Linked DNA regions of Homo sapiens. The protein of the gene in region 4 interacts with the protein of the main gene of each other region in a biochemical or structural test. Each region holds a gene or a part of one and is shown on either strand. Other genes may lie near its edges. The genes, in order: CCNT1, SATB1, ARNT, PML, ERCC6, MYB and USP11.

Region 1 (4,342 bases), on a different chromosome or scaffold from region 4:
TAGAGGATTGATTTTAGGCACATTTTGGAATCAACAGATTCCAGATTTAATATCACCTTTTAACATACTAATTCTAAGTTTAGCTGTGATGAATCCAAATTTAAATGTGAGAGGACTTAATACATTAAATGTGGCCTAATAATCAATGTGGCATTGATATGTTATATATCCTGTCAAGTCCTCAGGCATTTTTGTATGTGTGTGTGTGTTTTTCTTATTACAAAGGTATTAGAGGCTGGGCGTGTTGACTCAGGCCTGTAATCCTAGCACTTTGGGAGGCCGAGTTGGGTGGATCATTTGAGGTCAGGAGTTCGAAAACATCCTGGCCAACATGGTGAAACCCCGTCTCTATTAAAAACACAAAAATCAGCCGGGCATGGTGGCGTGCACCTGTAGTCCCAGCTACTCACTTGGGAGGCTGAGGCAGAATTGCTTGAACCCGGGAGGTGGAGGTTGCAGTGAGCTGAGATCGTGCCGTTGCACTCCAGCTTGGGTGACAGAGTGAGACTCCATCTCAAAAAAAAAAAAATGAAGAAACCCAAAGATATTATAATAAATTCCCATGGTAAAAATTAAGACAGTACAGAAATGTATGTGGAAAGTGAAAACTACTCTGTAATCCCACCCAGAGATAACCATTGATAAATGTTTGGTTTATAGTGACCCAGACATTTTTCTGTGCACATAAACTAGCATTGAGGTATTTTTATTTAAAAAATCATATCTTGCTATGCTACTGTTGCACAGCTTGCCTTTATCATGTAACAGTATGTATTGGACATCTTTCCATACTTCCCTTTATTATTTTTTGGATTTCTTATTATTTTAATTTGCCACATGGTATTTGTGTAGTTACTGTAGTTTATTTAACCAGCTTTTTATTGATAGCTATTTGGGTTGTTGTTCTAGTTTATTATATTGTACATTATGTTTCATGGGATAGTCTTGTACATATATAGTGCACTTATATAAGCATTTTAATACAAGTTCCTATAGGTGGAATTGCTGTGCCCAGAGTATACAATGTATAAAAATTTTTGTAGTGTCAGTTTGCCCTACTGAAAGATTATACATTGTTTCCAGCACTGTAGGTGAGGGTCCTTTTCTTTCCACCCTAACAAACAACAAATATTAATTACCTCAAGAAACATTTATCTAGTTCTTTGTTTTTGAAACGGAGTCCCCTCTGTTGCCCAGGAGTGCAGTGGTGCCATAATTTAGTTTAGTTTTATTTTGGTTTTATTAGTTTATGCCATACTTTTAGTTTCTAATAGGCTTAAAACCTTAGTCTTTGACTTGTCCTTTTCCCCTTTGTTCAGTTAGTTATAGTCCCCCCCAACCCCAAGATAGGTTTTTACTCTGTCACCTAGGCTAGGCTGGAGTGCAGTGGTACAATCATAGCTCACTGCAGCCTCCATGTCCTGGGCTCAAGTGATCCTTCCACCTTACCAAGACTACAGTGCCACCACGCCCAGTGAATTTTCCTTTTGATTTTTTGTAGAGATGAGGTCTTGCTATGTTGCTCAGGCTTGAGCTCAAGGGATCCTCCTGCCTTGGCCTCCCAAAGTGCTAGGATTATAGGCAAGAGTCTGCACCCAGCCTATAAAGTCTTGCTAATTTTATAATGTTACCATTTTTTCCCTCTCCTTATAAATATGTACTTTTTAAATTATCAAAAAATTGGAAGAGGACGGACAGGAAATAAAGAGATAATCCTGTTAACATTTTAGAGTATATCCCATTAGAATTTTTTCTTTGTATGCAAGTACATGTACATATATTTAGTGCAGCCCTATTAGTTTTACAAAGTGATGCCTGTGTTTCTTTTTTCCTTTATTTCTACTGCTAGTGTCTAAACTTTTTTTTTTTTCTTTTTTTGAGACAGAGTCTCGCTCTGTGGCCCAGGTTGGAGTGCAATGGCGTGATCTTGGCTCACTGCAACCCCCACCTCCTGGGTTCAAGCGATTCTCCTGCCTCAGCCTCCCAAGTAGCTGGGACCAAAGGCGTGTGCCACCACTCCTGGCTAATTTTTGTATTTTTAGTAGATATGGAGTTTTACCACGTTGTCCAGGCTGTTCTTGAACTCCTGACCTCAGGTGATCTGCCTGCCTTGGCCTCCCAAAGTGCTGGGATTACAGGCGTGAGCCACCACGCCCGGCCTACTCTAAACTTTTTAAAATTCTTTTTTCTATATTTTAAAATAATTTTTAAAAAACAGAGACAGGGTCTCATTGTGTTACGCAGGCTGATCTTGAACTTTGGGCTCAAGTGATTCTCCTGCTTTGGCCTCCCAAAGTGCTCTAAACTTTATGTCCTAATGCCTAAATTATTATTTAAGTTAACTTTTATTTTATTTTTTGAGACAGTATGGCTCTGTTGCCCAGGCTGGAGTACAGTGGCATGATCTTGGCTCACTTCAACCCCTGCCTTCTGGGTTCAGGCAATTCTCCCGAGTAGGTGGGACTACCCTACTACAAGACTCCTGAGTGGTGGTGTGTGCCACCACGCCCGGCTAATTTTTGTGTTTTTAGTAGAGACGGGGTTTCACCATGTTGGCCGGGCTGGTCTTGAATTCCTGACTTCAAGTGATCCGCTACCTCGGCCTCCCAAAGTGCTGGGATTACAGGCGTGAGCCACAACACCCAGCCTGAATTAACTTTTAATGTATCCCATCCTTTTCTCCTAGTTTTACCTACCATCAGATTACTCCTTCTAAATATTACTTTGTTTTAAAAATTTATTTTTATTAATTATCATGGGTACATAATAGTTATATACATTTATCATAAACATTTCTTAAACGATATTTTTCAAAATCTTTAGTGTCACTCTTGTTAAGAATCTTGGCTGGGTGAGGTGACTCACACCTGTAATCCTAGGACTTTGGGAGGCAGAGACAGAATTACTTGAGCCCAGGAGTTTGAGCAGCCTGGACAATGTAGGGAGACCCCATCTCTATTAAAAATAAAAATAAATTAACTGGGTGTGGTGGCGTGTGCCTGTGATCCCAGCTACTTCGAAGGCTGAGATGGGAATATCTCCTGAGCCCAGGAGGTTGAGTGGAACTGTGATTTTGACGCCACTGCACTGCAGCTGGGTGACAGAGTGAGATGCTGTCTCAAAAAAAAAAAAAAAAGAAAGAAAAAAAATCTAGTGTTCCACATCCGATTATCTAATGTATTTAACTACTCAGTTTAGTATTGAAAATGTGCTTTACGCCTAGATCACCATACCTTTGTTCATATCCATTTTTCTCTGATCCTGTTTTGTTTATCCTAAAGTCTGAGGAATATATATGTAGTATGCTTCATATTCATCTGAAACAAATGTGAAGGAAAAGAATCACTGTGTTTACTTAAAACAGTTTTTTCCGTATGTGTATGGAGATGGAGTCTCTCTCACTATGTTGCCCAGGCTGGTCTCGGACTCCTGGGCTCAAGTGATCCCCCGCCTCTGCTTCCCAAAGTGCTGAGATTATAGGCTTGAACCACTGTGTCTGGCCTAAAAAAATTTTGTTTTAAATTATTTTTGTCTCCTATGGTCTTGTCTGAAATCAATACTATGAGTTGAATTTGTGGAGAAAAACTTACTCTAGAAAAGTATAGCATAGGTGACATCAGGGTTACAAATAAGTATTAGAATATCAGTTCTAGTCAGTAAAATGAAATATATATTTAAATTCTGTAAAATTATTTATGTATTTCTTTGACTCCTGGTGAAATACAGCTCTTAGCATTACTATCTTTGAGTCACTGAAATGTTCTTAATATTCAAGAAAAGTTCTATTTCCTGAAGTTTCCAAGATCACCAGGCTACATTTATGTCATATTGCTTTAATCTTTTATAAAGTTTGTTATCTACTTTTATATTGACTTCAATTTTTCCCTCTTAATGCTTTCTATAAATAATGTCTTGCATATAATGCCATGCTTTGTATTTTTGAAAGGTTCGATATGTATAAGTAATTGAGATATAATTCACGTACAATGAAATTCGTTTGTTTAAATTATATAGTTCACTGGTTTTTAGTATATGCGCAAAATTGTGCAACCATCAGCACAGTCTAATTGCAGAACATTTACATCACCCCAGAAAACTCCTCACCTATTAGCAGTTATTCCTATACTCCTCTCCCCGCAGCTCCTGGCAACCACTAAACTTTTTCTCTATATGGATTTGCGTATTCTGGACATTTCAGTTTACTCCTTAAAAAATGTATTGAGTGATTTGATACAAACTTAATAAAGAATCTCACTTTAAATAGAAAACTGTCTGCTTACATCTAGTAGCTTCTCCCATAGACAGCTTTTAATGACAGTTTGTCAAAGAATTGGTATTTGGA
Region 2 (4,342 bases), on a different chromosome or scaffold from region 4:
GATACTCTGGCTAAGTGAAGAAACCAAATATGTCTTACTATTCCAAGCATTATTTCATGTACAAGATTAAAGAGAGAAGAGCTGCTTAGCCCTTATAAAATGAACAGAAAATTTTCCAATTCTTTTATTTCATATTGTCTCTTAAATGCAATGGGGAGAACCACCCATTTTTGAAAGAGTTCTTCCAAAAGTTAAAAAAATTAGTTGAAAATTGATGTTCTGTTATTTAGGGGGGAAAGACACCTTAAGAGTTTTCTAATGATTTATAAATTTCTTCTATCACTAACAATTTTTATTCCCCAAGAAATTTGATAATTACAGAATTTGATACTCTTTTCCTTGGCATGCTGTGATGGACTTTCGCAATGTTGAAAATTAGTTAATATATTTCAAATCTTGTCTATGGTTTTTAAAGTTCAAAATTTAAACCTGTTACCCAGTGGTATAATACAGCAAGATAGTATTTAGAATCATTTGTGATAATCAGTGAGGTTCTCTGAAAATGGTAAATTGAAAGGGTCACGTAGTGTCATGTACTTTGATAAGTCAGAGTTTAAGGAATAATTTTAAACATTGCCTGTGAAAATACAGCATAAACCTTAGGTGATGCTTTAGTAATAACCTTTGTTCTAATATGTTAAAATTCATTTTCTGGTATTTTCTTTGAAAGTTCTACTTCTCTAGAAATGGCTTTGTATCTTTACATATTGGGCTGTAGGCATTACACTGCCTTTGTCTAGGCAGCTTGGGAACTATACAGTTCAGTGCTGTTGCATTATAAGGATTTCGTTTATTCTTAACTTCCCTGGATCGTCTCTCTGTGAAAGATTTCATGGCAAGTTAAGCTACTCAAAGGAAGGAGACCAATTAGGCAGTTTCAGTTTATGTTATATGTAAAGCAGATGCTTAATAAAATTAAGAATACAATTGAGGCTCTCTTCTCTACCACTTCAGTTGTAACTAATATATTCCTATGCAGAATTAATGCCTCTGACTGTTCATTTTCTAAACAGAGTGGAGAAGAAAAGGGAAGGATCACTGCTGGCCAGGCAAAGCAAGGCAGCAGGCTCACCCTGTGCCTTTCATTTCTTGCAGGGCTTGCTTTCAGAAATCCTCCGAAAGGAAGAGGACCCCAAGACTGCATCCCAGTCTTTGCTGGTAAACCTTCGGGCTATGCAGAATTTCTTGCAGTTACCGGAAGCTGAAAGAGACCGAATATACCAGGACGAAAGGGAAAGGAGCTTGAATGCTGCCTCGGCCATGGGTCCTGCCCCCCTCATCAGCACACCACCCAGCCGTCCTCCCCAGGTGCGGTCTCCTTTTCCTCCTTGCCCTTCTTTGTTTAGCTTTTTTTTAATGCTTGAGGAAGAATCTCAATAAGAAATTAGATAGATAGATACATAGATTTATATGTTTTTAAATTCGTATAGTTGCTTGAGGAGAATTTGGTCCCAAATCATTAATTCTGATATAAAAACAATAAGCTCCTAATTAGATAGAGGGAAGAAAATTGCTTTGTGTTCCTTCATTCTTTGGGTTATTTGGGGGTGAAAGTAGTCTTTAAATGGGATATTTGTCTCTACTGTTGTTATTAAGTAAAGTATTTTAAACTCAATAGAAAAAGAATAAAGTCAGTTTTTTCCCAACTGGTTTCAGAATCGCCATTTGAATAGTAAATAAATAAAAATAAATAATTTCATTTGTATTTATACTTTCCAGTACGAACTGCAGCTGGTACCAATTACACACCATCTCATTTGTAATCTTTCATAATTAAGTTTAATAAAATCCTTGAAGGCAGCTTTAAATGGGGCTGATAAGGAATTCTATCCATACTCCAAGATACGGGCATGTTTTCTCTTTCTTAAAATTTTTGGACTTTTTAGGAAAGAAAGTTGCCTTCCGGGTAACTTTGGGTATGTGAATCTGTATTGTTTTTTAAACTAAGTTTTAAAAGTAACCTCATAACTGTTATAATTCAGTAAATCAATTTGCATTACAAACCCTTAGATAAAAGTTTGCTAGTTAGTGTATTAGACTCAAAAACCACAAGCAAATATATTATCTTTTTTTTTTTTTCTTTTGAGATGGAGTGCCGCTCTGTCACCCAGGCTGGAGTGCAGTGGCACGATCTTCACTCACTGCAAGCTCTGCCTCCCGGGTTCACGCCATTCTCCTGCCTCAGCCTCCCAAGTAGCTGAGACTACAGGCATCTGCCACCACGCCCAGCTAATTTTTTTGTGTTTTTAGTAGAGACGGGGTTTCACCGTGTTAGTCAGGATGGTCTCCATCTCCTGACCTCATGATCCTCCCACCTCGGCCTCCCAAAGTGCTGGGATTACAGGCCTGAGCCACCGCGCCCGGCTGCAAATGTGTTTTCTTACATGTTTAACTTGTGACATTTACAGCTCTTAAAAATAAGGTCAGTTAAAATTGGATAAAAATTGAACATGGAAGAAAAAGTCGAAATATTCATATGACAATCTCATAGTGAAATTGTATCTCGATTTTACTTCATTCTCATCAATGGTAGAAAGTGGTTATACATTTTCATGTATAGAAATCTAGAAAAAACTCATTCAACACTAAAGAGTGAAAGTACTACGGATACTGCATAAATAAGAAATATTTAGCCACTTGTTGAGTAGCTAAATAAACTGCTTATCATAAGGTTCTGAAACTATTACTTTTTAGAAATGTCACAAAATCCATTTTCACTAGTTTATTTAATGAAAATCAATCTGGTCTTGATGTCTATAGGAACAGACTATAAGGAAATCATTGCTATAATTGTGAATAAAAAAGTCATGCTTCTTTAGGAGAAAAGCATGGCATCTATATACGTATGTACACACCCACCTGCCCACGCACACAAAGTTATTGAATTTGATCTCTAAATGCTTCTATAAAATATTTCCTAAGATAAAGAATGAGGAACTCTTTATGTATAAAAAATATGACTTCTAAGTATGGTTAAAGAGAAAAGATAAACTATGACTTCTAGGAATGATAAAAAAGAAAAAATATACGAAATGAAATAAAATAATTTGGTTTGGTACTTTTTCTGTAGTGTTTAGTGTTAATACACACACTTTTATTAGTTAACTTTGCTCCTGAAGTCACCACTGACAGGGCTCTGAGCAGAGAATTACTTTACTTATCACTTAATCTGCAATACTAATAAAAGAATGGCTTACTTAAGACCAATATGAACTTCAACATTGAACTGCTTTAAAAAAAAAAAAAAACATCTAGCCAGATATTTGACTTTGTGGTTCCTTAATACAGCTTTTGTTTTCTAATTTTTCTAGGACTCTGGTTTTATTTATTTTCCAAATGTGATTTGGGTGTCCTTACTCATCAAGCTTTTTCTTGAGCTAAAGTTATACCAATTCTTATTAAGTGATATTTCTTTTCATATGCTGTTAAGATACTATAGGATAACTTTCCTGTATGTATGCTTAAAGGCTTTATCTGCTGATAAGTTGGGATAGAATATATGTTTAATTTATTTTTGCCTGAATTATTGGTTAACTGGTTGTGCCACCCTTAGCTGTATTTGTTTGTTCTGAAGAGGAGCTGAGACCAAGCCCATAGCTAGGGTATTCAGCCAATGATGAAAATATACAGTATATACATACTGTAGATTCTTAGTGAAACTCTTTCAAATAAAACATTTCTATTACTGCAGTATTACTGGCCATCTAACCAAACTCCAAAATGACTAACTGATATGTGTATGTGTGTGTAATTTTATTTTGCTGCTGCAATATAAATCTTTAAATTATTAATATTATTATAATGGAGATCACTACCAGTTTGTTCACATTCTTCCCTTTAACCATGATTAAATGAATTAAATTTTAAGAAATCTTAAGGTATTAAAGGTATTATCAATGCAAAATTAGTACTTTAGATTTGGAAAAACACGTTATAGAGCACTTGAATTAGTGCTGTCTTGTAGCAGTTGAAATAATGAAATGATGCTTAAACTGGAACCAGTATGCATATTAAAAATGAGTTAAAATAAAGGATAAAATGGAGAAAACCACAGATAACACAGACTGCAAAATTTTGTCTTTTTAAATTTTACATTTTGCCAAAGAGGAGTCCATGTGAAATCAGTATACATTTCATTTCCCCCAAAATGAGGAGATTTGAAACATATTTTGAGACAAATCTTGGGTTTGGGTTGCACCTGAAACCTGATTTCTTTCTAAAGAACCACATGTTAAAAGCAGAGGCCCTCAGTGGTTCACAGAAAACCCAGCCCCCATTAAGGCCTGGGAAACTGGATTCTCTTCCACCTCTTTATAGAGTGTAAAACATGCAGAAGATGATT
Region 3 (4,342 bases), on a different chromosome or scaffold from region 4:
AGTAGAGACGGGGATTTCACCATGTTGGCCCGGCTGGTCTGGAACTCCTCACCTCAGGTGGTCTGCCTGCCTTGGCCTCCCAAAGTGCTGGGATTATAGGCATGAGCCATGAGCCACCCCGCCTGGCCTGCATATAATACTTTACTGTTATGAATGCCTCTAGTTTTATATAACTTCACAGTTTATAAGATGCTTTCATTTAATTCTTACAATTTTTATTAATCCCATAGTTCATTGCTTTTTTGTAATTTTATCTCAGCTGCCTAAAAAATAGTGTCAAGAGAGATTGAGAGTTAATTGGAAGAAATATACAATAGGAAATAAGTGATGAGCTTGGTTCAGAAGGATGCAGTGATTGACAGTGTTGACTCTCATAGGCATGGTATGTGCAATGATGTTAATGCTGTATTTGTTCTATATCCCCTCTCCATCTCTCTTTAGCAGGTGGCTACCCAGGCTACTGCTAAGACTCGTACTTCCCAGTTTGGTGTGGGCAGCTTTCAGACTCCATCCTCCTTCAGCTCCATGTCCCTCCCTGGTGCCCCAACTGCATCGCCTGGTGCTGCTGCCTACCCTAGTCTCACCAATCGTGGATCTAACTTTGGTGAGTCCAGACCATAAGGAGAGTAACAGGAAAATCGCACCACTAAAGAGAAAGGATTTGGTAGTTAAAGTTGTTTGCCTGTGTTGTGGGTACACTGACCTGATTGTAGGGAAATGCAAGGTGACAATCTATTTAGAATTTAAAACCTACCAGCTGGGTGCGGTGGCTCACGCCTGTAATACCAGCACTTTGGGAGGCTGAGGCAGGCGGATCACTTGAGGTTGGGAGTTCAACCCCAGCCTGACCAACATGGAGAAACCCTGTCTCTACCGGGTGTGGTACCGCATGCCTGTAATTCCAGCTACTCGGGCGGCTGAGGCAGGAGAATCGCTTGAACCCAGGAGGCAGAGGTTGCGGTGAGCTGAGATCGCGCCTTTGCACTCCAGCCTGGGCAACAAGAGTGAAACTCCGTCTCAAAAAAATAAAAAATAAAAAAAAAAAACTACCCACATGAAAAATACTTTAGCACATATAACAAAAATCATGTGAATTTTTATACATTTAATAGTATGCACATTTAACCTAAATGAGTAAAGAACTCTATGGAAAGGCTGCCTGGAGAAGAAGAATTAATTTAGGGCTGAGTTTTGAGATAGAAAAGGCATTGATTGGCAGAGAGAAGGACAGAGTTATCCTAGGTAAAATTAATGGCTTACCTATAGTTGTTTACTTGTGGCATTAGTACACAATGGAATTGTGTAGATTGGAGTTGTTTATTCTTCCTTGCTGTATTTCTAGCTCCTGAGACTGGACAGACTGCAGGACAATTCCAGACACGGACAGCAGAGGGTGTGGGTGTCTGGCCACAGTGGCAGGGCCAGCAGCCTCATCATCGTTCAAGTTCTAGTGAGCAACATGTTCAACAACCGCCAGCACAGCAACCTGGCCAGCCTGAGGTCTTCCAGGTAAGAGAGTGAAAAGACTTTCAAAAATTAGAAGCTGGGAGAGAAAGGGTCCAGGAGGAGGAGAGACAGTGAAGGAAGCATGCCTGGATTGAGGTGTTTGGTTGGGGGTATATGTGAGAAGACAGAGAGGGATAAATGTAGGGATCACTGTCAGTTATTGAAAAGATTGCAGAAGCTAGATGCAGTGGTGCTTGTGTATATGATGTCAGCCCCTTAGAAGGCTGAAGCAGGGGATCACTTGAGGCCATGAGTTCAAAGCCAGGCTGAGCAACTAGCCTGATCCTGTCCCTGTCAAACAAACAAAAAAGGAGTATGAATTGAGTGTGATACATACCATTTAACCAGAACAGACAAATTTAGCACCATAGGAAGATGCCAAAGAAAGTTACTTTAGCTCATTCAAATAGCTCCATATACCCAAGTCACAGTAGCTTTGGGTTTAAAAGAGACAGAATGATTAAAAATAAAAAGTAGTGCTCGCTTCAGCAGCATATATACTAAAATTGGAATGAATATAGAGAAGATTAGCATGGCCCCTGCGTAAGGATGACACACAAATTCATGAAGTGTTCCATTTAAAAAATTATAAAAAGTAAATGAAATAGAACATAATGATTATAGCCATAATGGTCTATTTACACAAGTCCTGAGGGACTGCAAGAGTGAATGGAGTAATCTTAGGCAGGACAAAGGAAGAGCTGGTTTAAAGCAAAGATTGAAAGAAAGCAAAACAGGTCTTGGTGGAAAACAAATAGGATAAGAGACTCCATATATGTCTATAGGGGGTTATATGAAATACAGCAAGCAGATTTTTCTCCCTTTGAAAATATTGAGAACTAGGAAAAGGAAAAAGGTGGAACTGTAGGAGGAAGACAGAAGGGATTAGGAAAAAAGGCTGCGATCTAAAGGAGTCAAAGTTGTTGGAAGTAAGGAAGGCTAAGAGCTCAGCACAGCAAAGACTCGGGGTCAGGGATGGTAGTGCAGGGGAATGGTGGAGTAGAACTTGGTAAGTGTAAGAGATCAAGGTGTGTGACCCAAACTTAATCTTTTTCTTTTATCAGGAGATGCTGTCCATGCTGGGAGATCAGAGCAACAGCTACAACAATGAAGAATTCCCTGATCTAACTATGTTTCCCCCCTTTTCAGAATAGAACTATTGGGGTGAGGATAAGGGGTGGGGGAGAAAAAATCACTGTTTGTTTTTAAAAAGCAAATCTTTCTGTAAACAGAATAAAAGTTCCTCTCCCTTCCCTTCCCTCACCCCTGACATGTACCCCCTTTCCCTTCTGGCTGTTCCCCTGCTCTGTTGCCTCTCTAAGGTAACATTTATAGAAGAAATGGAATGAATCTCCAAGGCTTTTAGGACTGTCTGAAAATTTGAGGCTGGGTGAAGTTAAAACACCTTTCCTTATGTCTCCTGACCTGAAATTGTATAGTGTTGATTTGTGCTGAGATCAAGAGGCAGGTTAGAAGAACCTGACATCCACTGTTTGCCTTGGATAGTATGGCTTGTTTTTGGAAAGAAATTCTGAAGAGAGTGGAGGAGAGGAGAAATGTCCTCATATTTGAGGACCATGAAACATTGTAGGTATATATGGGGCTTTAGCAAGTTTGAGCATAGGCTCTTTTTGCTGCCTGTGAGCAGTCCCTCTGGAAAGAAACATGTGAGTAAGTGAGAGAGAGTGTGTGTGTATGTGTGTGTGTGTGTGTGTGCGCACACATGCTTCTGTATTTCACTCTTTCTCCCTATTAGGGAGTTATGCAAAATTTGTCCCCGATTTTACCTTTGTCTTTCTGTGTACTTTTCAAAGAGTCCTAAGGAGTTAAATCTTCCAGGTATTTTCCACTTAGTATTGCAGCCAAAGAATATTTAAATAAACGTCTTTGCTGCGCTTGCATCCATGCCCAGCCAATATACAACTGTAAAGCAAATATAGAAAGTCGGCTGTTGATACGATTGTCTGTTATCGAACACATTCAGTGATAAAGCTGGGTTACTGCTGCTTTTGGTGCTCTCACCTTATCTGGAAGATCTGCAAACATTACCTAAATAGGCTGGCAAGATAAACACTTTCTGGAACCCGAGACTTGGCCATAAAGATAATGCTGCATTTTTCTGTCAGAATCACATATGATGTGTGTTCTGTAGAGGTTATTTCTGCATGGAAACTCAACTTCTTGGATTAGCCGTCCCAGTGAAAATCCTCATTGTTGGAGTGTAAACCAAATACGAAGCCCTCTTGCAAAGTAGCCTCTTTCATCCCATACTCAAAATACCCAGTTTAGCAAGCAACTGAGATTTAAGTCTCTCTGGCCCTAAGAGGTTTTTCCTCTTTGCTCCCTCCAATCTTGAGATTGGGTTTTGCTTTAGAGTGCAAGTATCATAATTCCGTATGATAGATGGGGCCTGGACACCCATCTCAACAGGGTCACTTGGTAATTAACAATAGCCATATAAATGCGGATACAGGTTACTACCCTCACCCTTTACCTTCCTCAGGTAACAGTCGTAGATACCAGCTTTTTTTTTTTTTTTTTTAAATTGGCTTTGGCCAGTAGCTAAAGTGCAAGACTGAATTAATGAGAAGATATATTAAATGTAGTCATAGGGGACTGAGGAGCAAGGGTGGCCTTGAAGAGGCCAAAGGAATGTCCATTTGCTGAGTTTCCCTTCCTTATGTCTCCAGTCTGGTGCCAGGTAGTGGAGTAAAAAAGGAGACAGTTTATTTTTTTATTCTATGTGCACACTTACAGTATACATATATATTTATATCACAATTTACGAAACCAAAAAGTTGAGTTTCCAATGGAACCCTTGTTTTTTAATAATCGA
Region 4 (4,342 bases):
TTGCACTCCAGCCTGGGCAACAAGAGCGAAACTCCATCTCAAAAAAAAAATAACCAAATAAAAATATTAAAATACAAACACTTTGATCTAGCAGGCCTATATTTATAATCTATTTCATAGGAACAAAAGCTTCCATGATTAGGCTATATAACTTGGATATTACTAAAGTGTTGTCCATATTGGCACCAAAAGAAAAAAAAAAGGAAAGGAAAACGAAAGAAAGAAAATGCACAAACAGGAAATTACCTGAATGCCAGCAAAACGACAGTGATTGAATCAATTGTGGCCCATCTGGGATATACCAGAGCTATTAAAGAGAATACATCTGATCTGTGCCTATGCACCTAGAGGAATGCTCTGAGTGAAAGTTCGTTGAGAGGAGGAAGTTCAAAGTAATTATATGACTTGATTTATTTCTTTCTTTTTTTTGAGACGGAGTTTTGCTCTTGTTGCCCAGGCTGGAGTGCAATGGCACCATCTGGGCTCACCGCAGCCTCCGCCTCCCGGGTTCAAGCAATTCTCCTGCCTCAGCCTCCTGAGTAGCTGGGATTACAGGCATGCGGCAACACACCCGGCTAATTTTGTATTTTTAGTAGAGACGGGGTTTCTCCATGTTGGTCAGGCAGGTCTTGAACTCCCGACCTCAGGTGATCCTCCCGCCCCGGCCTCCCAAAGTGCTGGGATTACAGGCGTGAGCCACCGCGCCCGGCCGATTTCTTTCTTTCTTTTTTTTTGAACAAACATCAGCCCCCAAAATTATTGTAGATATCTAGGTCAATCATTTAACATGTTCTGTTTCTTCCTCTGGGAAATATGTATAACGACAATTCTCACTCAAGGGGCTCTTGCAAAGGTTAAGTGGCATGGCTGACATGTGTCAAGTCTGTACCATCCTGCAAGCAGCAGCCCAGTCTGGCATTTGTGTAAGGCGGTTTCAGTGGAGAGATGTGTGGAAGGGTGCACCCCACGATGCTCACCTGGTGCTTCCTCGGTGGGGAAGGGAAATTCAGAAGTGGTGGAAAGAGATGATTGTCGTTTCGTATATCTTTGTATTGTTTCCCGGATGTTGAAATTGTTACTGTAGTAACTTTTTATACTCATGTGTTATTGGTAGTTTGGATACTATCACCATAACCACAAACACTGAATTAGGAAAAGCAGAAACCTAGAAACATGCCATGATTCAAAGTCTGGTATTTTTGGAAGAGGAATTTAATAACGAACGTTTTAAGAGGAAAAAGTCAGGAGAGTCCTAACCCAGGCCAACCTTGTGTGTCCACAGCATCTACTGCCGAGGATGTTCCAAGCCGCTGTGCTGCTCGTGCGCGCTCCTTGACAGCAGCCACAGTGAGCTCAAGTGCGACATCAGCGCAGAGATCCAGCAGCGACAGGAGGAGCTGGACGCCATGACGCAGGCGCTGCAGGAGCAGGATAGTGCCTTTGGCGCGGTTCACGCGCAGATGCACGCGGCCGTCGGCCAGCTGGGCCGCGCGCGTGCCGAGACCGAGGAGCTGATCCGCGAGCGCGTGCGCCAGGTGGTAGCTCACGTGCGGGCTCAGGAGCGCGAGCTGCTGGAGGCTGTGGACGCGCGGTACCAGCGCGACTACGAGGAGATGGCCAGTCGGCTGGGCCGCCTGGATGCTGTGCTGCAGCGCATCCGCACGGGCAGCGCGCTGGTGCAGAGGATGAAGTGCTACGCCTCGGACCAGGAGGTGCTGGACATGCACGGTTTCCTGCGCCAGGCGCTCTGCCGCCTGCGCCAGGAGGAGCCCCAGAGCCTGCAAGCTGCCGTGCGCACCGATGGCTTCGACGAGTTCAAGGTGCGCCTGCAGGACCTCAGCTCTTGCATCACCCAGGGGAAAGGTAAGCACGCACGCCACCTTCCTGGGCGGCCTGTGCCTCTGCTGCACCCTAGGGAAGGCGAGTCAGAAGAGATCATCTCCATTTGACAGAAAAGAAAACTGGGTGTTTATTCAGTCTTTGGGGGTTGGTAAGGTCTTAGGTTCCAGGGCACAGGATAAGGGGGAGATGAGGCCCTGACAAAGGGCTGCAGCCACCCAGAGGGGACACATTTTACTAATTTACAAGACTCTGTGGATTGACCTAGCGATGACTCATGGGGAACACGTGAAAGTTGAAAAACTGCAAAGCTGAGAATCAGACCCAGTATCATTTTGGCGCCAGAGGGACCAAGCACTTCAGGAGGTTCTCTTAAGCCACCGGTGTCTCGGAACAGAGAAGTCAATTGGGACCTGGGGTTACGGTAGAAGGGGGCTAAGAAAACCTCCTGGGGATGGTTGGATGCTTACCCAAAACCATACAGTGGCTCAGTGGAGGAGATCCCTTGTCTGCAGGATGACCTGCTGTCTGCCAACCTTTGCGCGCCCTGCCTAGTGTTGGACGCTTGAGAGGTAAGGAGACACAGACTAGTTTCTGATCTCAAGGAGCCAGAGCCACTTCACGTAGCTGGAGAATGAGACAGTGCTCAGCTCTGCAATCCAAATCCGGGAGATGTAGCAGCTGTGTATTAGCTGGAACAGGGGGGCTTTCAAAATAAGGGGTAGGGGGAGTGTGCCAGAGAGTCTCCAGGAGTCTTTGACTAAATCTCCAAGCTGGAATGTGAGCTCTGAGCAGCTAGTATAGGATGCCCTTACTGGGAAAGGGGAGGGAGGCTATGGAATCTGAAGGCACCTGGGTAGGGTGCCAGTGACAAAGAGCTTATTTACTTCTCCTGGAGCTGGACATGGGTCATGAAGGATAATCTTAGAGGGCCTGGACCTGTGCCTTCTCCACCTAGGTAGTGAATGTCACCCATATTAAGGAAATGACCCCACAGAGTTTACACAGCTTGCCTTGGGTGTTATAACTGGGCAATAGCAGAGAGAAGGGTTATTTTATTCTGAAGCATAAGAGATTTAGATTTAATAAAAACCAGGCTGCAGATAAGGAAGATCATGGAGCTCTCACTATATGTAGAGAGTCAGTGAGCCGGTAGTGATGGCTTTATGATTGCGCACACTTAGCCTTGCTGTTGGCTCAGAGATGGAGAGAGGTACACTTGGGGTTTGGAGCCAAAAGCAAGCACTCTAATGCCACCTCCTTTTCCCTTCTGGCTGGGTTCCTGCCCACTGCATTCGAGAGAGCTCTCCTTCCAGCTGCCCCTCCAGGGAGTTGTCCAGTGCTTTGGGATGCCCTGGAAAATAGGTATCCTGGAAAAGCAACAGGGACCTCCTCTCTATCACTGTCCCAGGTCAGGATGTCCCTTACCAGCATGTCCTTGACCTGCCTGTGACCTTCTTTGTGTTCTACAGATGCAGCTGTATCCAAGAAAGCCAGCCCAGAGGCTGCCAGCACTCCCAGGGACCCTATTGACGTTGACCTGGTGAGATGGGTTTGAGGTCTGAAGGGGTGGTGGTGGGGCCCAGCAGGTCAGGCAGGTTGTGAGTCCTGCTGTCCCTGTGTGTGCAGGGAGAGCGTCTGAGTGAGGGACAGCAAGTGGCTGGACTGGAAATTTCAGTGAGAGGAAGTAAAGGAAGACATTAAAGAAGGGTTGGCTGGCTAGCTGGCTCTGACTCTAGGCTCCTAAATGCCAAAGTTGCTCTTGATGGGCCATGAGCCAGGTTCAGTGGGGGTTAGATGTGGGGTAGACAGTCGGCCACAGATCAGGGCTGCTGCAGAGGGAATTCCAGCATTAGATGGCATATTAGTGCCTTCCAGCCATGAGAAACTATGGTTGTCAGATGTATGGTTAGATATAGGGTCAGCAGTCCTGAGGGATGTGCAGATGTCCTCTCCCCTCCTACACCCTACCCCCAATGTGGGAGCCTTCTCTTGGAGTCAGAATAGGTGGGCCTTCCCCTGCTCTTTCCCCACAGATGGTTCTTGGAAAGGAACGGGGAATGGTGCCAGGAGTCAGATTTCGATCCCAGTTGCCCGGGTTCTGCTGGTGTGATTCCAGGGCCACCATACATGTAACAAAGCAGACTGTCTCAGGGTTCAAGGTATCCATGTCCCATCTAATGCTGGCATTCCTTCTGCAGCACCCCTGACCTGTGGCTGTCCAGCTTTCATGTACACATCTCCAGGGACAGGAAGCTTGCTCATTCTAGAGGCAGCTGCTCCCAACTCTGGACTGCTCTGACTTAGAAAGTGCTTTTCCGAGTGGAAATGCAGTGGTGTCCCTTTGACTTGCCCCCTTTGGCATTCACAAGTATGGCTCCTTTCCACCAGAATAAGCATCCTCGGTTTCTTCCTGGACTTGGCATCTGGTCTCTTCCCTAGCCTAGTCACTCAGGTTTGCATGCGCCTAGCCTATCAAGGATCTGGCCCAGGACTGGCCAGT
Region 5 (4,342 bases), on a different chromosome or scaffold from region 4:
TGAGAAAAAACAAATTGCAAGTCATTGCAGTGTGGCATTTATGTTCAGGATTTCCCCTTGTCCCACACTCGTATTTGAAGTTGAAACATTCTTGACCTTGGAAAGATGAACCAGGTACCACAAGCCCAGTTCATTGGGCCTCCCCAGTGAAGCCCAAGGGCACATATCTGAGTTCTGGTGATGTGGAAGGGAACAAGACAAAGAGGAGTCTGGCGTGGCCAGGGTGGAGAGGCATGGCAAGATATATTTTTTTCTTAAAGCTTTTTGATTAGGTAGAATACTAAAAGGACAGTCATAAATATAGTAGGTTATCAAAGGAGACTAACTTTTTCAATTGAACATTTGTGTTTTTATTTCTTATCTTATGGCCTGTTGACTTCCATAGCCCATTGGTTCTGAATCAGAAATACAGAGTAGTTTAGGGATTTGCCCAGTGTGTAAGGGGGAAACCAAGTAGAACAAGTCCACCTTTCAGGTCAGTGCCCATGTATTTAAGGGCTCGGGCACATAGAAGGCAGTCTGCCGTCCTCAGGAGAGCATGGGGGTGCAGGCATGCCTGTCTGCTGGGAATATTCACGGCCCCTTTACTCCTAGAAAAGTGGTAGTTGCTCACATAGGGCTCTCTAGTAATAGTAATGTATGGAATTTTTATGTAATGTATATTATTTTTATTTTACTTTGGATTTAAGTTTAAAATTTCATAATGCTATCTTTTGTATTTAACAATAAATCACTTCATTGCTGTTTTCTGTCTTCTATATTTACCATTCAAGGAACAACAGCTAAAAAAGATCACTGCAAAACAAAAGCATCTCCAGGCCATCCTTGGAGGAGCAGAGGTGAAAATTGAACTAGATCACGCCAGTCTGGAGGAGGATGCAGGTGAGGATGCTAGGAGCAGTTTCTCTGTGTTCTTGAATTGATGCCTGATGCCTGTAGTCAGTGGAGGGTGTCTCTTTAGTCTTTGCCTGGGTTTTGAGAAAAATACGTTTCTTTGCCTTAGTGTCAAAACAGATTTAGGAAAATTTTATTCTCTACACCTGCAGAACCAAATCCCTCTCAAAGAGAATTAAAGTAAACTTTTAACTCAGTTCATAGGAGGCTGCTGGTACACATTTATTATTACATTTAATACACTGGAAATCTTAAACATTCTTATTTTGTTAATTTGATAAAGACAACTAGCATCATGATTAAATTACATGTTGGAAGCCCAACATCATTAATCGCATTTGTAGAATGGCTCTCACGTGTCTTTAAAGAGCGTATTTGGCAGGCTTTCCAAGCATCAGTTTAAGAAAAGACATCTTCATTCAGGTACTCTGGGCAGTATTTCATTTACATTACTGTCTTGGATGGTTGTCTTTTGGAAAACTTTTTGGGAAAATTCGTAAGCTCTGGAACTAAATTATCTTTGCAGTCATTGTGTGTGTGTATGTGTGTGTGTGTGTACAAATTGTTGGTGGCTGCATAGGCATTGACTATTTGAAATACAGATTAAAGCTGCTTAGCATTAAATTCTCTAAGCAACTATTTTCTACTAGCTTTAGAAGTTTATTCAGTAAGATGAGAATTGTTATGAAGAATTAATTGAAGCAATAGAAAAAAATATGTATATTTTTGAAACAGAGTTTCGTTCTTGTTGCCCAAGTTTGGAGTGCAATGGCACCATCTCAGCTCACTGCAACCTCTGCCTCCCGGGTTCAAGCGATTCTCCTGCCTCAGCCTCCCAAGTAGCTGGATTACAGGCGCATACCACCATGCCCAGCTAATTTTTTGTATTTTTAGTAGAAACAGGGTTTCACCATGTTAGCCAAGCTGGTCTCGAACTCCTGACGTCAGGTGATCTGCTCACCTTGGCCTCCCAAAGTACTGGGATTACAGGTGTGAGCCACTGCACCCAGCCCAAAAGTACGTGGTTTTAAAGTTCAGCCTCTCAGAATTCATTAGGCCTATGACCAGTGCTTTTAACTGCTGTGTACTATGTTTCTCATTGATAACAGATGTTTGTTCCTGTCTGGCCGTCTCAGATCTGCTGTTGTCTTTCACCTCCTACTGTGACTTTGGTAGTAGGGTTAATAGCTACCTCTTAGGGTTAATAGCTAAAACTTTGGTAGTAGGGTTAATAGCTACATTGTCTAGGGTTAATAGCTACCTCCTCAAATCCAAGAGCCCCTTTTTATCCTTGTTCCACTCTGCCTGTCCACAGCAGCTGACACTTCTGTTCCTTGTGGGATCCCTGCTTCTCTACTGGTTTTCTTTTTAGCCCTCTGACTACTTCTGCATAGTTATTTCTGGCCATATCTTAAATATTGATGTTTCTCAGGATTTCTTTGAGCCCTCTTCTTGTTCTACTGCCTCTCCCTGGTTATCTATTCCCCATGGCTTTTGCAGCCACCTAGGTTCTACTAGTACCTTATACAGATCTGTAGACATCTGGCTTTGCTCTTTTTTTGAGTTCCTGGTTCCTATTATATCTCTCCGTCTGGACACCAGCCAACACTTGAAGACATGAACTGAAATTGGAAGTTACACCATAACTGTAAAGTCACCCAGAAAGTATCCCTCTTTCATTAGTTGAAATTCATCTCCGGCAAAATTACCACATAACCAAAATACCAAAAGACCTAAGGCTTAATAGGAAGCAAAATACTCAGTGTAAAGACCTAAGGCTTAATTGAGGCAAAATACTCAGTGTAAAGGAAAAGATTTGTTAAATGGACTATATATAAAACCAAGAACTTCTGTTCATCAGAAGATAGCATTTAGGGCAAGATACTGAGCTGGGGAAGATATTTGCAATACATGTGTGAATCAAAGGACTCAAATCTAGGATGTATAAAGAACTAGAAATCATTTAAAGAAACAGACAAACAAAAATGGGCGAAAGACTGGAACACTTCCTACACAAAAAAGGCTATCCAAAAGATAAATTCATGAAAGGCACCTATTTTGTTAGTCATCAGGGAAATGTAAATTATAGCCATAATGTGGTACCACTACACATCTACCAAAATAGCTAACATGGAATGGCAAGAATATACACCAGTTGGAACTTTCTGACACAGTTGATGGGGACTTTGGAACGTAACACTTTGGAAAACTGACAGTGTCTACTAAAGCTTAGCATACCCAGATATATATATATATATATATATATATATATATATATATATATATAAAAATATATAAATATATAAATATATAAATATAAATAAAACCAAAAGATGTGCATCAGAATATTCATAGCAACATTATTCCTAGTAGCCAAAACCTGGAAGCCACTCAAATGTGCATTAACAGTGAGAGTTAACAAACTACAGCTACATTCAACAGTAAGGATGCAGCTCAAAAGCATAATGTTGGGTGAAGGAAGGTGGACACAGGGCACAAACATTTCCACTTACGTAGCGTTCAGAGACAGGCACAACTTGTCTGTACGTTAGGAGTCCAGGTCCATCATTATCTTGGGGGGCGTAGAGGCTGGGAGGTAGCCTGAAGGGCTCATCTGGTGGTGCTAGTAATTCTGTTAGTTGATATGGCTGCTAGTTTATGAGTACATTTTTTCTGAATATTCACTGAGTTCTACACTTAATGATTTGTGCACTTTCAGATGTATGTTTTATTTCAGTGCAAGTTTAATGAAAAACTGGGTATCATTGGCCTGCAAGAATTGTAGATTTTAGAATATGGATTCCTTCCTATTAAGCCTTAGGTCTTTTGGTATTTTGGTTATGTGGTAATTTTGCCAGAGATGAATTTCAACTAATGAAAGAGGGATACTTTCTGGTGACTTTACACTTATGGTGTAATGTCTTCAAGTCAGTTAACTTCACATATCTAACACAGTGCTGCTGTCCAATAGACCTTTTTGCAGTGATGAAAATGTTCTCTGTGTTGCCCATTATAGTAGCCATTAGTCACGTGTAGCTCTTGAGCACTTGAAAAAGGGCAAATGCAACTGTGGAACTGAGTTTTTAACTTAATGTAATTTAAATTTAAATAGCTGCAGGTGACTGGTAACTGCCATGCTGGGCAGCATAGAGCTGACATTTATGTTTTTCCTTTTTAGGTACATGGTGATCCCTGTTTTTGGTTTTACTGTCTCTTGAATTTAAGTCCATCTGAATGTTGGTTTTAGCAATGACGTGAGAACTTCGGAGCTTGCTTCCTCATGGACGACTACTCAGCTGATAAGGAAACACAGCTAAACTTGACTATTTATAACTGTATTTATACAGTAATAAGCCTATCTTTGGATGGCAGAGAGTATATTTATAGTGAAATATTTTGGGGAAAAGTTACTGAGAAGTTGTCTTTTTGAACAGGAATATATTAAATA
Region 6 (4,342 bases), on a different chromosome or scaffold from region 4:
TGCACACGAAACACCAGCATAAAGCACAGTGCCCCAGCTAGATGTAACCTCCTGCTTGACTCTGATCTCTCTAGCAGTCAATGCAGAGAGGGGAACAGAAACAAACAGATATAAGATTTGGTGGCTGTAAGCTCAAAAGGAAACCAGTGGGTTAGAAAAGGCACTATTCCTGGTATTGCTATCTGGAGGGATTATTTTCCATGGGACAAAAGAATAAGAAAGGCCTTAGCTGTTCAGAGCCTACAGTGTCCTTTATGAGACAGAATGGACACAGGTGAAACAGGAGGAATAATAACAGGCCGTGTGCGCAGGTTTGTGGTGTTGTCCATGGGAAGAGGGGATGGGACACTGAGGAACTGTCAAGGCAATGCTGTGGGGAAAGGGTGAAAACAGCTAAGATTAGGGGAGAGAGAGGTGGAAACGCAGGGATGTCATCCAGGGAGCGAGATAGCAGGAAAGAGGCAGGAAGCTGCAATTTGTACATTGCCAGTGGGAGGGGATGTGGAGTGGGGGAGGGCTGAGAAAGAAAGGGTTAAACGACAACATAAAACAAGCCCTCACTATAGGCACCGCATGCCTCTAAGTGTTATTGATATAACTCCTCTCATTTAATTCTCACACAAAACACCTGTGGCATAGCTACCATTCACTGCATCCATTTTACAGACCAGGCAATTTGAAAGGAAGAGAGGATTTAGGCGCCATACTCAAGGTTACCTGGGTAAGAAATGATGGAGCAAGAATGTCACCCATGGGACCACACCCCTGGTGAGTACCAGACGCTGCCTCTAATTCGAGTTCTTATCAGAAACAATAAAAGGAACCTGGGAAGTTGTGTGCTCAGGGCACCAGGGCCTTGGAATCCAGGAAAGTGCTGAGATGGGGTGTGAGAGTCACCAGACTTCTTAGCAAAGAAACATAATTCTACTAAAACAAGGTATGGGTACAGTGGTAGGGTTTCCTTGCCTAGTTGCTGCAACAAAGTTTCCTGACATAGGGTTTGCAGTGTAATGTTCTAGCTTTTAAACTTTCCTAGGGCACAAAGCTTGTGCCATCTCCCCACTGATGTCAACAGCACTGTCTATGAATAGAAATGTTCACTCTGCAAGCTCAGAGGCTCAACATATAACTTGAAATACTACATAGCAAGATGGATTATCATAATATTTTCCAGGAACTGAGTATCTCAAAAATGACAAGACAAAGATAACAGACAGGTATTCTGAATTGCCTTCTATTCCGAATTTAATGTTTTCCTAAACAAAATTACCAGGTTAGTTACAGTATTTGAAATAGTTCTGAATAAATCATGTTTCTCTAGCCTCAAGCATGCAGGTGAAATACGCATATCTCTCTGGTGTCTATCTGTCCATACAAATTCCCGAAACATGAAATTGACACAGGAAACCAATTAAAAAACAAAATTTAATGTTATCTTTTCAGTTACTGAGCTTGCATTTGTAGTCGCTACAACAGTGTGACATTTAATAGTGACTACTTGAGGGTGAATAGTTCAATATGGTGAATATGAAGTACGATGCAGGGCTTATGGCAAGGATTAGATGCACATGGAGCCAAGGACTTGGATCTTAAAGAACAAGTGACAAAACAGGAAGCAGAATGAAATATCTTAATATCATAATATCTTGTAGGTAAATTTAAATTTACATAAAGACACACATAGAAAAGAAAAATACTTGAAACAAATGGAGGGGAAGGGGAATGAAGGTGAGAATGGAGATGTGAGAACCAGGAAAGAAAGGATTGCTTCTGTTTTACTCTAGCTAAGAATTTTTCCAAAGTCTTTAAAATGGCCTATTAGAATTTTTTTTTTTCTATTTAGCTGGGCTTCAATCAATATAGAATTTTCTTGTCCATTTTTCTTTTTTTTAGATATAGGGCCTCATTCTGTTGCCCAGGCTGGAGTGCAGGGGCGTGATCACAGCTCCCTCAAACTCCTGGCCTCAAGCAAGCCTCCCGCCTCAGCCTCCTGAGTAGCTGGGACTACAGGAGTGTGTCACCATGCCCAGCTATGTTTTTTAAAAAAAATTTTTTGTAGAGAGCGGGGGTCTCGCTATGTTGCCTAGGCTGGTCTCAAACTCCTGGCCTCAGGTGATCTTCCTGCCTTGGCCTCTCATAGGGTTAGGATTAAGGATAAGCTACTACAACCAGCCAGAATTAATTTTCTAAATGCGTAAATTATCTTAAATGCTATGTTAAAACAATCTTATGCTTGCTATTACTATGCCTCCTGTTAAAAGTCAAGTTCTGTGTCTTTTTTGTTTTCGTTTTTGAGAGAGGGTCTTGCTCCTTGCCCAGGCTGGCATGATCACAGCTCACTGCAGCCTCCATATCCGGGGTTAAAGTTGATTCTCCAACCTCAGCCTCCTCAGTAGCTCAGACTACAGGCAGGTGCTACACTACACCTGGCTAATTTTTGTATTTTTGGTAGAGACAGGGTCTCGCTGTGTTGCACAGGCTAGTCTCAACCTCCTGGACTGAAGTGATCCACTTGCCTTGGCTTCCTAAAGTGCTGGGATTACAGGCATGAGCCACTACACCTGGCCTAAAAGTCAAGGTCTGATCCTTTGTAATATAGTCCTTAGGTTGACTCAGAATTCCCAAAGTCGATTCAGGAGAATCTAGTACTAAGTATTATCAACTGAATCTATTTTCAACTTGAAATCTGACTGTGTTCCTGTGAGATCCCCTACACAGCTCATCACTGTATTCATATTTAGCTCTTCCTCCAGGACTAGGTATTTAAAAATGAGATCAATATAAAGAAGGTACCATATATTTGTAATTAGAGTTCTGAGAGACCTTTCCAAATAGTTAGCTTCTCCTAAGTCAAAAGAGAATTTACCAAGAAACAAATAAAAATGAAATATCCAAATTCCAGAAAGCATAGCATTTCTGAGTCATATATCCCCTGAAGCTCAGAGCTAGGGCAGCCAAGATGACTTGGAACGCCTGATTCTCCCAGTATAGACAAACACCAGGATGTGGTAGCCACCATGTACGAGAACCACTGTGTGTAGGAACAAAAAGGCCACCAAGCATGAGCGAGGCAGCTCCTTTTCTGCACCAGGAAAGCACAAGACAAGCACATCTTACCACAATAAATGAAACAAACTGGTCAGAGTAGACATATGCCTATGTCGTGAAAGTCAAGGAAGATCAGAAGATTGAGTACTTTGGTACAAAAAAAAAGAAACGCTCCCTTTCTCCCATCTTACCTGAAGCCTGGGAGCCCCATGCCAACTTTTCATGCAGAAAGAATTATTTTGACAAAGGAAGATTAATGTCTTTGTGCTGGAAGAACATTTTTAAATACTGTCATACATATCTTTGCAAATTCTCCTTGTTCTCTCTCCCTAAACTTTAGTTTCATTTACCCTAAAGAACTGCTGAGAATTATGGGTTTCTGCATATGAATTCTTGTTAAGTTACTAACCCATGGTGCTCTTGCAGACATGTCACTCTATCATAATTCATTTCAACATTAATAATCCTACCCACACATCCTCCTCCTGTGGCCGGGGAGTCATCTCGCTTATCCTGTAATGTGCCTTTAATTGCCCCTGGGCAGAAGTGAACTATAAACAGTCTGTCAAAGCTTTAACTGGGATATCCTGTTAAAGCACTTTAAATAAATATTGCCATCTTTTGTAGAAAACAGAAGAAATAAAAAGAAACAAGACCATGTCCACAGGTGGTTTTCTGTCAGAATTAGATGATCTTCACATTTTCATTTAGAACATGAATAGTTTTTTCATCAAGCTGAACAAAAACGGTTCTTATTATTATATTCATACAGCAACTTCACCCAGTATCTGCTGGCTTCAAAAGCCTTGGCAAATTATGTGTTTTACAATTTGCTGACCTAATAAGAAACTTGTATAAACTAAAAAAAAAAAAAAAAAAAAAAAAAAAAAAAAAGTAAAACCAAAGCAACTCATCAGATGGTATCATGTTTTTATTGTGTTTTGTTTTAAAATAAGCAGGCATCAATGGTATATAAAACAGTAAAAAATAAGAATTTTCTGCTTATTCTATTTCACCTATCTGAAAAAAAAATACTTCCTCTGGACTAAAATTCTAAAAATGAGAATTCCTTCCCAAAGGGACATCTTTTGAAAAAATGGATCAGTTATAAGAGAGACTGTAGAAATCTTTAGTTGTCTTTGGAAAGTCAGAGATAAGCTTAAACTGAAATGTTGCTAAGGTAAGATTAATGGTTACCAAACTTTTCTCGAGAGTAAATGCTTCCCTAGGTTGGCACAAATCAATTAAATGACTCCAACTTCAGCACTACTGATTTTCTATAGAAAATAATCTT
Region 7 (4,342 bases), on a different chromosome or scaffold from region 4:
CTTACAAACATAGCATACAAACACACATATACAATGGTCTGTAAAGAGAGCCACACAGGGGAACACACACAGCAGACAAAGATACCTGTATGATGAGCTAGGAGGGGGAAGAGAGCAGACATATGTGTACCTACCCAGCATACATGGATCTGTACCCATGCTGGGCCTACAAGGCTTTCTTACTACGCACTCCCCGCCATGCACCCTCCCCATCCATTATACCTTGCGTTCAATGGGTGGCTGGCCATGCTCTAGACCATACCAGCTGACCAGGTAATGCCAAGCAGCTGCTGGGAGCAGCACATAATCCTCGCCTTCCACCAGTCCCTCCTTGAGGCGCCAGTTTATCTCATCTGTGGGGCGGGGGTGGAGGTGGCAGAGGAAGAATCAACAAAGGAAACTGACGAATGACTCTGGCCACCCCACCAGTGACCTAGCACACAGAATGGGCTTATGATCATCTGTAGGGACGGAAGGGACAAGAACTCCAGGGCTAGGGTGAGAAGGAGGCAAAGGCCTTGTACCTTGAAAGAGTGTGGCATTGTTGATGCAGCCAGGGAAGGTGCTGGAGTCCTGGTCCCCTCCCTGCACGTATGCCTCCCACTGCTTATACCAGTGCTTCTCCACAAGGAACCTGGGGCCCAGACAGGTAACAAGGGTGTTACATGGGTAGCTGAGGGTTAGCTATACAACTTCCCATGCCCAACAGACTGAAAGTATTGACACATTATAATTTAAGATGAAAAGTTTCAGCATCATATAAAAATAAATTCGAAGCAAAATTTATTCAGTGAAACTCAGATTTGTATGTTAGATAACTTCTTAGTATTAAAAAAGAAATCTGATTAAAAACAGAAAATGTGGTTAACAATGGCAAACAAACCAACAAAAAATCCATACTTATAGTGCTAGGAAACATGAGGTTTTATTATAGAATAAAAGATGATTCATTTGAATTAGTCTGTGGGATAACCCAGTTAAGTTAGGCTCAAGATATGTGCCATCTGCAGCTAATTTTATAAGGCTTTAGCCATTCATTATGTGTTTGTTTCTAAAGGATCTATCAATGGAAGCATAATTCTTCAGCTAAGAACTAGATTTGATAAATGGTGAAAAATCTGCTTTTAAAAGGAGCAAAGAATTTAAAATGCTAAAAAGAATCATAAGGTTTTCCTTCAAAAACTGCATACTGAAAAAAAAAAAAAAAAAAAAAAAAGACCGGGCACAGTGGCTCACGCCAGTAATCCCAGCACTTTGGGAGGTCAAGACGGGTGGATCACCTGAGGTCAGGAGTTCAAGACCAGCCTGGCTGACATGGTGAAACCGTCTCTACTAAAAAATACAACAAATTAGCCAGGTGTGCTGGCACGTGCCTGTAATCCCAGCTACTTGGGAGGCAGAGGCATGAGAATCACTTGAACCCTGGAGGCAGAGGTTGCAGTGAGCCGAGACTGCATCACTGCACTCCAGCCTGTGCGACAGAGTGACTCCATCTCAAAAAAAAAAAAAAAAAAAAGAACTGCATATTGCTATTGTTCATCATTTTTTAATTTAGAATTTACTTTGGCTTTATAGTAAATTCCTGAGCTTATGGTTCTCTTAAAAACTGTGATAAAAACATGTAACATAAAACTTACCATCAAGCATTTTTCAGTATACAGTTCAACTAGCTCTCTTTTAAAGGTGAAACTTATATGTACTACAAGGATAACCATTTAGAACTATATTGAAATCTACCTTTGTGAGAAATCCTGAAGTTTGGAAAATACTTGACATATAATAAGTGCTAAATGAATTTTAGCTGTCATTGTTCTGACAGCTTGGACTTCAGGACTTGGACATAAAAGCTCACAGACATAAACCTCCTCCTGCCTAAACACACACACACACACACACACACACACACACACACACACATACACACACACCTGTTCTGCTGTGGCATTTCTGACACATAAAAGGCTATCCCAAATACTGAGCAGCCTCAAATAAATGCTTTTTAAAAAATAACCAAATTTGATGAAATGCACATAACATTATATTGGCTGGTTTTCAAGCAATTTAACCTCATTATTATTATTATCATTTTTTGAGACAGAGTCTTGCTCTGTCGCCCAGGCTGGAGTGCAGTGGCACAATCTCAGCTCACTGCGACCTTTGCCTGCCGGGTTCAAGCGATTCTCCCAATTTAACCTCATCAATGTGATTCTTTAAAATGTCAACTTTCCCTTGTTCATGAAAGGATCAGAGAGGTGGGAGGATGGAGGGACAGACAAATCTTGGAATAGTCACAAGTCACCTAGATAGGCAAACATTTCTGTGGGTTTTTTGTTGGTTTTGTTTTTTTGCTGCACTGACCCCCACAGACCCTGCCCCATATCACTCACACCAGGGAAACAAACCCTTCTGTGCCGGTGGCTCAATGCTCAGACCCAACCCTGCACCCCACACACCACCATCCACCCTTTGTGGCTTTACTTGCCTCCATAGCCAGTCTATGAAGTTAATTTGTTCAGTAAAGCTATAGTTAACAGTACCTTCCAATGCAAAGGTAGGCACTGCTCAACTTCTTTTTAAGAGCAGATTTTGAACAAAAAATAACATTAAAATCACGCTGTAGAGTGGTAAGCAAAACTTCCAGACCTGGTCACAGGCTGAACTTCTATAGATTTCATAGAGGACTGACATTTTACATAATTTTTCACAGAAAATTATTACCATATTGCTTCAAGTCAAAGACACTTTAAAAAAATCATTGTTAACATCTCTGAAATCAGGATGTCTCACAATCTCTGTCAGGCCAGGTGGCAGTCACAACAAAGGTGTCATGGTCTGTATCAATAACACCCAAATTATTATATTTACAGCTGGGTATTCAATTTTTTGGATGCTATCATAAATGGTATCATAAATTTTAATTTTCTAGTTTCTTGCTGCCAGTATATACAGGTACAACTGATCTTGCTAAAGTCACTTAGGTTTATTCGTGCTTCCTCAAATTTGTTGAAATGATATGAAATATGTGCTTATGGAAAAAAGTTGCTAAACAATTCTTTATTTTCTGTCTTCTAGTTTTCTCTTGTGTCTGATTTGTGTTTGAAGATGGTTCATCCCACAAAAGGAAAAAGTGAAAATTTCCAAGGAGGCTATATTATTACAGATTTGAATTTGCCTTAAAATACAAGCTTCTCCCAGAAATTAAATCAGTTGTGATGACCAAATTAATTAACTACCCTCACCCAAATCTGCCAGCTGACAAAAGACAGAAGGTGCAAATATTAATACTGATACAAGATATATGATTTGGGGTTAGTCCATGACTTCAAAATGCTTTATAAACACATATATCCTGGCCACTTAAGCAAACCCCTGTAAAATGGAAAATGGACAGCAATAAAGAACCTTGAGATGCTTTGCTCTTACTAGAGAAGCATTAACAAAGTGGAGTTTAGCAAAAATGCTTCATGATAATACCCATGACAGCAGAGACAAACCGGCTTCAACACTGAACCAACACTGGTGTGGTAATTTTTTTAATGAGGTGAAATTCACATAACATAACATTAACCATCTTAAAGTGAACAATTCAGCGGCATTTAGAACATTCACAATGTTGTACAACCACAACCTCTCCCTAGTTCCAAAATATTTCATCATCCCAAAAGAAAACCCAGTACTGGTGGGGTAATTTTAAAGCGTATTATCAAGGATGACAGGATGTCATGTCCTACCAGTGACACAATCACAAGGCTACAAAGGTAGGAAGAGGCAAGGATCAAAGCCTCAAGGCCCTTTTGAACATCTTCAAATGAGTTACAAAACACTGTGGTTATTTTGTTTATTCTCAGGATGAAATGAGGCTTTTTCTTGCTGGAAAAGTGTGACGTAATGGCAGAAAAACACGGCTTGGGTTTGTATTCCCGATTTGGAAAATCTCAACTCATCTCCCCAGTAACAGAGATACACATTTCACTGGTGTGGTTATTAAAGAACTCTGTAGTGAGTAAACCTCACTCGAAAAAGCCCTAAGGTTAGATGTGTTTGAGGAACAGCAAGAGTCCAATATGGCCGGCCTGGATGGAGACAGGGAGGGAGTGCGTAATCAGAGGAGAGATATGGGAAGACATCAGAATGCAAGCAGGAGACCAGCTTCATAAAGGCTTGCAATTCATTGTAAGGATTTTAGCATCTACGCTGCAAGAGATGGGAAGCTGTTAAGAGTATTTTGAGGAATGGCTGGACATGATACATGTTTTAAAAATAATTACTGCATATGTAAAGAGGAAAATGGTACCTTTACAGTTGAGAAAGCTGGCCAACACTACCATAACCAAGTGATCAA

Evidence for each region.
Region 1: the proteins of PML (region 4) and CCNT1 form a complex in vitro, tested with the Homo sapiens proteins (one study listed by BioGRID).
Region 2: the proteins of PML (region 4) and SATB1 form a complex in vitro, tested with the Homo sapiens proteins (one study listed by BioGRID).
Region 3: the proteins of PML (region 4) and ARNT form a complex in vitro, tested with the Homo sapiens proteins (one study listed by BioGRID).
Region 5: the proteins of PML (region 4) and ERCC6 form a complex in vitro, tested with the Homo sapiens proteins (one large-scale study listed by BioGRID).
Region 6: the proteins of PML (region 4) and MYB form a complex in vitro, tested with the Homo sapiens proteins (one study listed by BioGRID).
Region 7: the proteins of PML (region 4) and USP11 form a complex in vitro, tested with the Homo sapiens proteins (one study listed by BioGRID).

Annotation. Positions count from the first base shown.
Region 1 is NC_000012.12:48,706,083-48,710,424, reverse strand, and holds part of CCNT1 (cyclin-T1), read left to right. Parts: intron 1-4,342. UniProt on the Homo sapiens protein: Regulatory subunit of the cyclin-dependent kinase pair (CDK9/cyclin-T1) complex, also called positive transcription elongation factor B (P-TEFb), which facilitates the transition from abortive to productive elongation by phosphorylating the CTD (C-terminal domain) of the large subunit of RNA polymerase II (RNA Pol II).
Region 2 is NC_000003.12:18,383,365-18,387,706, reverse strand, and holds part of SATB1 (DNA-binding protein SATB1), read left to right. Parts: intron 1-1,095; coding exon 1,096-1,308; intron 1,309-4,342. UniProt on the Homo sapiens protein: Crucial silencing factor contributing to the initiation of X inactivation mediated by Xist RNA that occurs during embryogenesis and in lymphoma.
Region 3 is NC_000001.11:150,810,339-150,814,680, reverse strand, and holds part of ARNT (aryl hydrocarbon receptor nuclear translocator), read left to right. Parts: intron 1-441; coding exon 442-604; intron 605-1,342; coding exon 1,343-1,509; intron 1,510-2,570; coding exon 2,571-2,660; 3' UTR 2,661-4,342. UniProt on the Homo sapiens protein: Required for activity of the AHR. Upon ligand binding, AHR translocates into the nucleus, where it heterodimerizes with ARNT and induces transcription by binding to xenobiotic response elements (XRE).
Region 4 is NC_000015.10:74,021,546-74,025,887, forward strand, and holds part of PML (protein PML), read left to right. Parts: intron 1-1,282; coding exon 1,283-1,863; intron 1,864-3,311; coding exon 3,312-3,382; intron 3,383-4,342.
Region 5 is NC_000010.11:49,524,957-49,529,298, reverse strand, and holds part of ERCC6 (DNA excision repair protein ERCC-6), read left to right. Parts: intron 1-773; coding exon 774-882; intron 883-4,342. UniProt on the Homo sapiens protein: Involved in repair of DNA damage following UV irradiation, acting either in the absence of ERCC6 or synergistically with ERCC6. Involved in the regulation of gene expression.
Region 6 is NC_000006.12:135,211,825-135,216,166, reverse strand, and holds part of MYB (transcriptional activator Myb), read right to left. Parts: intron 769-4,342; exon of another isoform or gene 667-768; intron 1-666. UniProt on the Homo sapiens protein: Transcriptional activator; DNA-binding protein that specifically recognize the sequence 5'-YAAC[GT]G-3'. Plays an important role in the control of proliferation and differentiation of hematopoietic progenitor cells.
Region 7 is NC_000023.11:47,235,362-47,239,703, reverse strand, and holds part of USP11 (ubiquitin carboxyl-terminal hydrolase 11), read right to left. Parts: intron 635-4,342; coding exon 525-634; intron 354-524; coding exon 223-353; intron 1-222.